Linked DNA regions of Homo sapiens. The protein of the gene in region 1 purifies or fractionates together with the protein of each later gene. This does not show direct contact. Each region holds a gene or a part of one and is shown in the gene's direction. Other genes may lie near its edges.

Evidence for each region.
Region 2: the proteins of SLC8A1 (region 1) and TMEM37 fractionate together in Homo sapiens (co-fractionation; one large-scale study listed by BioGRID). This does not show direct contact.
Region 3: the proteins of SLC8A1 (region 1) and ST13 fractionate together in Homo sapiens (co-fractionation; one large-scale study listed by BioGRID). This does not show direct contact.

What each region holds. Positions count from the first base shown.
Region 1 is NC_000002.12:40,427,987-40,431,635, reverse strand, and holds part of SLC8A1 (sodium/calcium exchanger 1 isoform A precursor), read left to right. Parts: intron 1-1,331; 5' UTR 1,332-1,355; coding exon 1,356-3,163; intron 3,164-3,649. UniProt on the Homo sapiens protein: Mediates the exchange of one Ca(2+) ion against three to four Na(+) ions across the cell membrane, and thereby contributes to the regulation of cytoplasmic Ca(2+) levels and Ca(2+)-dependent cellular processes.
Region 2 is NC_000002.12:119,434,725-119,439,024, forward strand, and holds the end of TMEM37 (voltage-dependent calcium channel gamma-like subunit), read left to right. Parts: intron 1-1,566; exon of another isoform or gene 1,567-1,661; intron 1,662-2,164; coding exon 2,165-2,716; 3' UTR 2,717-3,780; downstream 3,781-4,300. UniProt on the Homo sapiens protein: Thought to stabilize the calcium channel in an inactivated (closed) state. Modulates calcium current when coexpressed with CACNA1G.
Region 3 is NC_000022.11:40,829,108-40,832,756, reverse strand, and holds part of ST13 (hsc70-interacting protein), read left to right. Parts: intron 1-85; coding exon 86-188; intron 189-1,800; coding exon 1,801-1,917; intron 1,918-3,082; coding exon 3,083-3,131; intron 3,132-3,649. UniProt on the Homo sapiens protein: One HIP oligomer binds the ATPase domains of at least two HSC70 molecules dependent on activation of the HSC70 ATPase by HSP40. Stabilizes the ADP state of HSC70 that has a high affinity for substrate protein.

The sequences.
Region 1 (3,649 bases):
TCCTGCAAGGCCTGGGAGACAGTCACCTTGACTTGGAGCAGACCTTCCTCTACTTCAGTTTCCCCTCACCTCCATCCCAGGTTCTGGAAGCAGAAGGGATGTAAGGTCTGAGTAGAGTTTTGCTTGAGCTGGTGGGTGGACTTAAGGCCATGGTGGTTGAGTCCACTGCTATGCCTACCAAGCTTTGTGTGCTGCTCACTGACTCTGTTGCCATGGCCCTCCTTGCCTACAGTCCTTCATCATGTGTATATTTTGTGGTCACTCTTGTCATGCCACATGAGCTAATTTAAATGGAATTATTGGTCCTGCATTTTTTGGTCACTTGAACCCTCGACAGAACTAATATGTATTTTAGAATGACCATGGAAAATATGACCGACACCGAGAAGGAACATTTTAAGGTTGGTGACGCTGATTCCACAGCCTGCCAGGCGCTTACCCACAACTAGGCCTTGGCCTGTTTATCTCCCTTTCCAGCCTGCAGAAAAACAGGCTCTGTACACAGATGTGAAGAGCTGTGCTTGAAGAACCAGATGCCCAGCTGCTAATGTATCAGCAGACCTGGGCTGGCTGAAAATTAGAAAGAAATGTGCTCTCATCAAAACATGCTTTTAAAAACTGTACTTAATGTGTGGAAATATTGCATTATAGCAGAATTTTTTTCTCCTCAAGAACAAATGCCATTGAGCTTTGATTTCAGGCAAGCTTGAAGTTTTGTTTCCAAGTAAGTGTGGAGCAATAGGACATGATTTCATGAAATACAGTGTAAGATGCTCTCTGGCGTTTAAGATAATCACCAGGCCTTGTGTTGGTGGGATTTTTTCGGAGTCTGATTTTCAAAGCATCAATTGTAATAAGGTGCTTTTGGCATTGAAACCGTTTTTGGAAGATGATGTACTAACACAAATTTAGAAGAAAATCTGCTTTAGTAAAAAGGAGGAAATTGTTTAATGCTTCAAAAGTCCTGTGATTTTGGCTATTAGCATGCATAAATGTGTGTTTAATAAGGCAAGGCTATATAAATTGAACTTTTCCTTTCCAGTAAGTCAATTGTGTATCTTGCTCAGTGAATGGGTACTACATGTAGTAAATTCACAGAAAGATTGAGTTGTAAACTTTACAAAGGATTGCTTAGTCACTGATGGAGTCTTAGAACAATCATTCACCATAGATTTTGTGATGGTCAAATATAAACAAATTTCGGTTTTGTGATGGTCAAATATAAACAAATTTTGGTAAGAGTAATAAAAATAAGTAATTAGTAATGCTTTGGCTGCAGCTCTAATGACATGACTTTTTTTCTGCCCTCTCCCCCATCTTATTTTTACCAGTAGGTTGTGACAGTTGGAAGTGTCATGTACAACATGCGGCGATTAAGTCTTTCACCCACCTTTTCAATGGGATTTCATCTGTTAGTTACTGTGAGTCTCTTATTTTCCCATGTGGACCATGTAATTGCTGAGACAGAAATGGAAGGAGAAGGAAATGAAACTGGTGAATGTACTGGATCATATTACTGTAAGAAAGGGGTGATTTTGCCCATTTGGGAACCCCAAGACCCTTCTTTTGGGGACAAAATTGCTAGAGCTACTGTGTATTTTGTGGCCATGGTCTACATGTTTCTTGGAGTCTCTATCATAGCTGATCGGTTCATGTCCTCTATAGAAGTCATCACATCTCAAGAAAAAGAAATAACCATAAAGAAACCCAATGGAGAGACCACCAAGACAACTGTGAGGATCTGGAATGAAACAGTTTCTAACCTGACCTTGATGGCCCTGGGATCTTCTGCTCCTGAGATTCTCCTTTCAGTAATTGAAGTGTGTGGCCATAACTTCACTGCAGGAGACCTCGGTCCTAGCACCATCGTGGGAAGTGCTGCATTCAATATGTTCATCATTATTGCACTCTGTGTTTATGTGGTGCCTGACGGAGAGACAAGGAAGATTAAGCATTTGCGTGTCTTCTTTGTGACAGCAGCCTGGAGCATCTTTGCCTACACCTGGCTTTACATTATTTTGTCTGTCATATCTCCTGGTGTTGTGGAGGTCTGGGAAGGTTTGCTTACTTTCTTCTTCTTTCCCATCTGTGTTGTGTTCGCTTGGGTAGCGGATAGGAGACTTCTGTTTTACAAGTATGTCTACAAGAGGTATCGAGCTGGCAAGCAGAGGGGGATGATTATTGAACATGAAGGAGACAGGCCATCTTCTAAGACTGAAATTGAAATGGACGGGAAAGTGGTCAATTCTCATGTTGAAAATTTCTTAGATGGTGCTCTGGTTCTGGAGGTGGATGAGAGGGACCAAGATGATGAAGAAGCTAGGCGAGAAATGGCTAGGATTCTGAAGGAACTTAAGCAGAAGCATCCAGATAAAGAAATAGAGCAATTAATAGAATTAGCTAACTACCAAGTCCTAAGTCAGCAGCAAAAAAGTAGAGCATTTTATCGCATTCAAGCTACTCGCCTCATGACTGGAGCTGGCAACATTTTAAAGAGGCATGCAGCTGACCAAGCAAGGAAGGCTGTCAGCATGCACGAGGTCAACACTGAAGTGACTGAAAATGACCCTGTTAGTAAGATCTTCTTTGAACAAGGGACATATCAGTGTCTGGAGAACTGTGGTACTGTGGCCCTTACCATTATCCGCAGAGGTGGTGATTTGACTAACACTGTGTTTGTTGACTTCAGAACAGAGGATGGCACAGCAAATGCTGGGTCTGATTATGAATTTACTGAAGGAACTGTGGTGTTTAAGCCTGGTGATACCCAGAAGGAAATCAGAGTGGGTATCATAGATGATGATATCTTTGAGGAGGATGAAAATTTCCTTGTGCATCTCAGCAATGTCAAAGTATCTTCTGAAGCTTCAGAAGATGGCATACTGGAAGCCAATCATGTTTCTACACTTGCTTGCCTCGGATCTCCCTCCACTGCCACTGTAACTATTTTTGATGATGACCACGCAGGCATTTTTACTTTTGAGGAACCTGTGACTCATGTGAGTGAGAGCATTGGCATCATGGAGGTGAAAGTATTGAGAACATCTGGAGCTCGAGGAAATGTTATCGTTCCATATAAAACCATCGAAGGGACTGCCAGAGGTGGAGGGGAGGATTTTGAGGACACTTGTGGAGAGCTCGAATTCCAGAATGATGAAATTGTGTAAGTTCTATATTATATATGTGTGTGTGTGTGTGTGTGTGTGTGTGTGGTTCAGTGTGTTTATGAATGTGAGTCTGTGCATCATTTTTTAAATTAAATAGCATGCAAGGAATGGAATAGCTTTTATACAAGATCCCTTTCAAGATATCAGTCTTTGCTTGGGTGCCAGTTATCAATATGCTCTGCACACAGAGATCTTAAATTTATTTACATCAGAATTTTATTTTTACTTTTATACATTTACACATTTTAACTACATTGTGACTATGATAAAATGAGTGATGGGACACAGTTTATCAGATGACTTAAGACAGGCTGAGAAATTGGTCTTCTATTTTGAATCACATGGTATATACTCAGAAAAGGAATATTTAAAACATCACAATAGGTCTCTAACTTCGTTTCTGAGTACAAATTGGGAAAACCCAAAAAGGAAACACCCTGAAAATAATTTCTTGGCTACCAGGGCTGGCTGAAAATATTTTT
Region 2 (4,300 bases), about 79 Mb from region 1:
GGCCCTTGAGGCATCCCTCTGCACGCACCTTTTCCTCACCAAGAGGGCATGGGGCACAGGGAATTCCTCCCCTTTGTTCTGGGACATGTCTGGAATCCTGGCCAGGCAGCGTGCTGGGACAGACCAAGTGCGGTCCCTCCCATCCAGGAGCTTACAGCCCATGTAGGGAGGGCTGTAAGGGCTCAGTACTGAGCCCCTAGCACAAAGGCCCTGTCCTTAGAAGGCCCTAGTCAGTATTTATTCGCTGAACGGATTCCACCTCCTGCATATCATACAATTGTCTGGGCAGCCATAAAGAGCTTCATTGTGCTTTAGGTGAGTGATCTCAGGCAAGTCACCTGCCCTCTGCATAGTTTCCTTCTCTGTACACCCACCATGGAGCTTCCTACTTTATCAACCTCATAGGTTTAAGAATAAAATAGGATCCTACTTAAGGCAGAGGTGCTGAAAGCAAACTGCATCCTTATTCCTGTATCCCTGGGGTTGAAATTAGCGGTAGCTCCTGTGTCTGGGGCATGTGAGCAGATACTCTTGCTGGGCTCTTTGACCACAGGAGTCTCCCAGAAGCAGGGCTTTATTTTATGTCTCACACAGAGAGGAGTGGCCCAGACCTGCCTCAGGAAGCCTCCATTTGCCCATGGCATAGGACACACCCCATGTTCCTCACTGCTCCATTCTCCTGGGTCCTAGCAGTGACCGTCATGCGTGCCTGTTTTGCATACCTCCCAAACCGAGGTGTAACCTGGGCAGCTTCTAGACACACTGCAAAGCAGGTCATTTAATGTATGACTGTGCAGGAGACTCAGTTTAAAGGAGCTTCAGACGGAAGTGACAGTGGTTGCCAATGACCTTTGACTTATCTCACAGCTCTCCCTTGAGCACCCACTGAATGCCCAGGTATTGGGGACACAGCAGTGCCTAAACACAGAATGTGGTGGTGTGGGGGTAGGGGGCGGCCTTCCCAGAGCACACAGTGTTGGAATGAGACAGAAATAATATGTAACTACAAACTGTCCTCAGAATGGTGAAGAATTTGAACAGGTGCCTGACACAGAATACCAGGAGGGGCCTGACTCTGGGTTGAGTGGGCAGGAAAGCACTCTCTGTGGAGGAGACTTTAAGCTGAGACATGAAGAATGGAGAAGAGGTGTTGTCCTGGAGGGGTGGCAGGAGCTGCAGAAGAGCCACTACAGGCTTAAGGGCCAGTCATCTGAGGAAAGAAAGTTCTAGACATGGGGAGAGGGGAGTGTGCTGGGAGCTGAGGTTGGGTGGGGAGGCGGAGCGGATTGTGAGAGGCTTGTGGGCTGTGTAAAGAGTTCCTGAAGTCTTTCTTTTGCTTTCTGGGTCAGGGCTTGGGTGCAGTGCCCGGGTGGTGTCCTTGAACTGTGAGATGAGACACCTCACTGGACACCTAGCCTGGCTTGCCAGGAGACCGGGGTGGGGGCGCCTCCTTCCAGGGCTGAACCGGAAGTGGAGGAGAGCTGCAATGGCCTTCCCATGCCCAGAAGCTGCAGGAGCAGACAATGGGGTTGGCAAGCTCTGGGTAGGGTACAGGCCGCACAGGTCTGAGGGCAAGATGCAAATGTCACTTTCAGTACCAAGAAAAACGAGGCAATAATCTAGAGTCCTGGGCTGAACGTGGACAGCTCCCGAATCATCAGGTGGGTGGGGATTAGGACAAAATCGTGTATCCTGGGGAGATGGAGGGAAACAGAACTGTGTATTGGTGTGCTAATGTCTCAGTGCTTGGTACAACCCTGGCAACTCTGCCAGGCCGTATTCTTGTTTTATGTACAAAGAAACCGAGGCAGGCTGCATGCTCAAGGTCATGGGATGCAGGCACGACAGGTTTTCTGAACTCAGAACTGACTCAGATTTGCCAGTCGGTTTGGACTTCTCACCCACTCTGAAGATCACAAAAGAAAGAAAGGTCAGGAAGCTCTTAGTGCCTGGTGAATACTGGATGGTAAATGCTCACAGGTCTGGAAGGGAGGAAGGGTTCCCCCCAAACGGTGGGTCTGGTCTGTTCCGGGCTTCACAGGAGACCAAGCAGAGAATAAGACAGTGCGGAGCAGGATGGAGGGCTCAGGGGTCTTCCCTGCAGAGGTTCCTGGGGGCGTGGCAGGGCTGTGGCTGACAGGGTGCTTCCTACGGTTTTTTCCAGGCCCAGAGGCCTTTGGGCCAAAGGCAGCCCCGCCGGTCCTTCTTTGAATCCTTCATCCGGACCCTCATCATCACGTGTGTGGCCCTGGCTGTGGTCCTGTCCTCGGTCTCCATTTGTGATGGGCACTGGCTCCTGGCTGAGGACCGCCTCTTCGGGCTCTGGCACTTCTGCACCACCACCAACCAGACGATCTGCTTCAGAGACCTGGGCCAGGCCCATGTGCCCGGGCTGGCCGTGGGCATGGGCCTGGTACGCAGCGTGGGCGCCTTGGCCGTGGTGGCCGCCATTTTTGGCCTGGAGTTCCTCATGGTGTCCCAGTTGTGCGAGGACAAACACTCACAGTGCAAGTGGGTCATGGGTTCCATCCTCCTCCTGGTGTCTTTCGTCCTCTCCTCCGGCGGGCTCCTGGGTTTTGTGATCCTCCTCAGGAACCAAGTCACACTCATCGGCTTCACCCTAATGTTTTGGTGCGAATTCACTGCCTCCTTCCTCCTCTTCCTGAACGCCATCAGCGGCCTTCACATCAACAGCATCACCCATCCCTGGGAATGACCGTGGAAATTTTAGGCCCCCTCCAGGGACATCAGATTCCACAAGAAAATATGGTCAAAATGGGACTTTTCCAGCATGTGGCCTCTGGTGGGGCTGGGTTGGACAAGGGCCTTGAAACGGCTGCCTGTTTGCCGATAACTTGTGGGTGGTCAGCCAGAAATGGCCCGGGGGCCTCTGCACCTGGTCTGCAGGGCCAGAGGCCAGGAGGGTGCCTCAGTGCCACCAACTGCACAGGCTTAGCCAGATGTTGATTTTAGAGGAAGAAAAAAACATTTTAAAACTCCTTCTTGAATTTTCTTCCCTGGACTGGAATACAGTTGGAAGCACAGGGGTAACTGGTACCTGAGCTAGCTGCACAGCCAAGGATAGTTCATGCCTGTTTCATTGACACGTGCTGGGATAGGGGCTGCAGAATCCCTGGGGCTCCCAGGGTTGTTAAGAATGGATCATTCTTCCAGCTAAGGGTCCAATCAGTGCCTAGGACTTTCTTCCACCAGCTCAAAGGGCCTTCGTATGTATGTCCCTGGCTTCAGCTTTGGTCATGCCAAAGAGGCAGAGTTCAGGATTCCCTCAGAATGCCCTGCACACAGTAGGTTTCCAAACCATTTGACTCGGTTTGCCTCCCTGCCCGTTGTTTAAACCTTACAAACCCTGGATAACCCCATCTTCTAGCAGCTGGCTGTGCCTCTGGGAGCTCTGCCTATCAGAACCCTACCTTAAGGTGGGTTTCCTTCCGAGAAGAGTTCTTGAGCAAGCTCTCCCAGGAGGGCCCACCTGACTGCTAATACACAGCCCTCCCCAAGGCCCGTGTGTGCATGTGTCTGTCTTTTGTGAGGGTTAGACAGCCTCAGGGCACCATTTTTAATCCCAGAACACATTTCAAAGAGCACGTATCTAGACCTGCTGGACTCTGCAGGGGGTGAGGGGGAACAGCGAGAGCTTGGGTAATGATTAACACCCATGCTGGGGATGCATGGAGGTGAAGGGGGCCAGGAACCAGTGGAGATTTCCATCCTTGCCAGCACGTCTGTACTTCTGTTCATTAAAGTGCTCCCTTTCTAGTCCTTTTTCTGCCCAGAAGTAGGTGATGTTATTGCCCTCAGCCCATTTCATTCTACACTGACTCCTTCCCATTCCCTCACCTGTTGAATTCTGGCTCCCAGCAATTGCATGGGTTTTTGGTCTCTGCCCCGGTCTTGTCACTGCTGCAGGTTCCTTTCCTGGTCTGGGCTGAGTGCCTATACCTACGTCTATTGTGATGTTTTAAATTTTTTATTCCAGGATGCATGGAGTCATGAAGCTGTCTGCTTTGTAGGATATAAGGCCATGGGCTTTAAGGTTGAACCACCAAGGTGCCCAGAGTCCATGGAGATCATCCTGGAAAGGTTTCCATGAATTGCTCAGTTTTACAGAGTACAGAGCTCATCAACCACACTGGCGGCATCTTAGCCTGGGAAATGGGAACCTGGAGCAATCTACAAGTTGCAAAGGGGATGTGTAACCCCCTGGTTTCTTCACGGGGAGGGGATGTATGGAGGTGGGGAGTCAGGGCCCAGAGAGGGATGCACTTGTCCAGGGTCACCC
Region 3 (3,649 bases), on another chromosome or scaffold:
TCCTTTTTTGTAAGGAAGAAAGATATCATGCCACATAGGTGAATATGTATAAAAGGCTCCTAAAATGAGTGTAAATCTGTTTCAGACTTCTAGGCCACTGGGAAGAAGCAGCCCATGATCTTGCCCTTGCCTGTAAATTGGATTATGATGAAGATGCTAGTGCAATGCTGAAAGAAGTTCAACCTAGGGTATGTCAAAGTAGAGAAAGGGAAAGTCATTAGTTAAATACTCCATCGCTGTAGTGCTTAGCCCCCGACAGCTGTAATTCATCTGAAAAACAGGCAAAGAAACAAACCATTGGAAGATATAATCTGTAATTGCTGAAGTTTGTGCTCGACTCTGGAGATCTCATTAGGTTTTCATGCTTTCATTTCTCATGCATTATTAGAGCAAACTCTGTTACTTTGTTTGGAAGCCTGCAGTGGAATTATAACCAGAAAATTAGAAAAGGGGGTATCAGGTTTACAACAAGGAAACAAATAGAAAATCTATAATTAGCATTACCCAGGATTGAATCTGATGTGTCCTTATTTATCATAGGTGTGTACAACCACTTTATAAAGCAAGAAGACCTTGTGGAAGTTAAGAAGTTTCAGGCTTTCCGGCCAGGCGCGGTGGCTCATGCCTGTAATCCCAGCACTTTGGGAGGCCGAGGCAGGTGGATCATGAGGTCAGGAGTTCAAGACCAGCCTGGCCAACGTAGTGAAACCCTGTCTCTACTAAAAGTACAAAAAGTTAGCCAGGTGTGGTGGCATGCGCCTACGTAGTCCCAGCTACTCGGGAGGCTGAGGCAGGAGAATCACTTGAACCTGGGAGGTGGAAGGTTGCAGTGAGCCAAGATCACGCCACAGCACTCCAGCCTGGGTGACAGAGCGAGGCTGTCTTAATAAAACAAAGAAGTTTCAATCTTTTAAAAATAATAATATTGAATCCCAAAAGTAGAACATTCCAGCTTTTAAGGATGATTTTTATCTAAAATTGTTGGTTAAAATAATTTTAATGTGTTTACATGGTAAATCCTTCATTTTGTGGGAAGTTCAGCTGTCAAGAATTTACTCTCAGAGATTTTAAGATAGTGGGAATTGTATTGAATTTAATTATTTACTGCCAGAGAGTTCATTTGGTTTTCTGTTTTCTTCTTAAAATAGGGCAAAGTTGTAACTTTGTCAGCAAAGTGTAAACAAGCTAAAGTGACAGTTGAATATGAATCTCTTAAATGTATTTTATTCTCTGAGGAAATAACATCCAGAGCATTTATTTGATACTAGTGTCTGGTATACATATTTACATTTTTCCCTCTTAATCCCTATAGCAATTTGATAATATTAAATATTTCTTCCTCTCCCATTTTATGGATACAGAAACTTAAATATACTGTGGCATATACTTGGGGTATGAGTTCCCAGTCTCTGCCTTCCCACGGCAGACATCCGTAATAATACTCTTCCTACTGAATTCAGCTGTCCGTCTGAAACCTAAACACTGTGTATCTGATAGAAACTAGCAGGCAAGAATTGTCATGCACTTAGAAACCTGTTTGTTAATCTTTGAGCTTAATTGTTTGAGATTATAACATTTCTAACTTCAAATCCCAGGCCCCTTTACTCTGTTTTACAGTGCCTCATGCAGTTGAGGTTGGTTTTCTTAAAGGCTTAGCTTGTGTTAGGTCTTTTTGTACAAGACAAATCTGTCATTTTTCTGAACTGCATGTTGAATTAAACATCTCTCTACAAAGAATATTTGTGTTGATGTTATTCAGCTTTTGGAGCAAGCTTATTTTGCTATGGCTCTTTTTTCTAGGCACAGAAAATTGCAGAACATCGGAGAAAGTATGAGCGAAAACGTGAAGAGCGAGAGATCAAAGAAAGAATAGAACGAGTTAAGAAGGCTCGAGAAGAGCATGAGAGAGCCCAGAGGGTAAATTTCCTATAGCTAAGCCATGAAAGGAAAATACGGCAAATTATGTAGAGGCATTAGGACACTAAAATTTTAATTCCTGGCTCTTTTATTTAATGCTGGCTACAGTTCTATAGAGTAATGATATTACTTATGGGGAGTCTCCTTTCACTGTATCTAATTTGGGGGACATTTTTAGTCTTAAATTATTCAGTGAGCTTTTATTTCACCATTTTATATTCTTGTTTGTGTTTTTATAAAATCAGTTGTTTTTCCAGGTCAAGTAATTGAAATGTGACAGTATTATTGTTTGATCTTTTGAGGATGCTTCGCCAGATTAATTAAATTTATGATTCCTCCTCTCTTCCAACAGTGGATGTGTTGCTATTTAAAAATGATTCTAGCAGGGCAAGGTGGCAAGTGCCTATAGTCCCAGCTCTTGGGAGGCTGTGGTGGGAGGTTCACTTGAGCCCAGGAGTTCGAGACTAGCCTGGGCAACATAGTGTGATGCTACAATAATTCACCTACTTATTTCTAACATTATTGAATGAAAGAACATGAAAGAACCTAAGGCTGTATTATATAATATGTTACATTCTAATTTTTTGTCCATTTAATATTAAGCATCATACTTGATTTTAAGGTTATAGTTTATAATCTTTAAAAGTAATTTATCTCCTTGATATTTAAAAGCAATATATCTCCTCAATAATTTTAAAACTACATATGAGGGATATTTATTTTTTGTTCATTTTCTCTTTTAAAAAGCAGCAAAAACAAATCAATAAATCTACATTTGTATTATGTAGGGAGAATAACGGAAAAGATGTACCTAGGAAACAAAAGTCATGGTAGTCTTGGTAATCTAGCCATGTCCTTCCCTATGGGTGTTTTAAAGCCAGGATGAATTTAGAGTTTTCATATTAGTACTATAAATTGTTTTCCAGGTTTACTTGTTTCCAGAGTAGAAGTAAAACACTTTACTTGAAATTACTACCAAGAATAATGCCCACTGAGAATCCAGTTTGGAAAAAATGTTTGAAGGGGGTATGAAGTATATCCTTCAGTTCAGTATTGCCATCTACTAGGTTATTTTACAATTTTTTCATGGTCTTGCATGGACAGGTTGCATGGACAGCACTTATTTCTTCTTCTATTATATAATTTATTTCCTTTTGTATCAAAGGAGGAAGAAGCCAGACGACAGTCAGGAGCTCAGTATGGCTCTTTTCCAGGTATATTTAAAGAAAAGTTAAAACTGTTTTGTTCTATTATACAGTGATATTTTAATATAATACTTAATATTTATTATAAAGTGATATTCTGATTTTGTTCTCTTATACAGTGATATTCATGAAGAACCTAGGTAAAAGAAATGATGGAATTATTAGGCATAAAAATGATGTTTTTTGTACAGTGTAAAAATAGCGTATTTTTCTTTCAAATGTGATCAGAAATTGCTAGTGAGGCAAATCTTTGAATACCAGAGGACAGGACTAACACAGAGATAGAAGAGACGGAAAAGGCACGCAGAAGATTTATTGAGTACTTCCTGATTACGACAGTGTGGAATTTATATAAAGACCAGGACAAGACTTAATTTTTTGTTTTTTAAACAACTGTCTCCAGTTGTTTAATGGTAACTAGCTTTCTCTTAAGGAAAGTTTTTAGAGGCTACGTATGCTTATATGTCACTGGTTAGAACTTAGTTGCATGATCCGATGCTAGAAAATCTAGCCTTTATTCTGAAAGA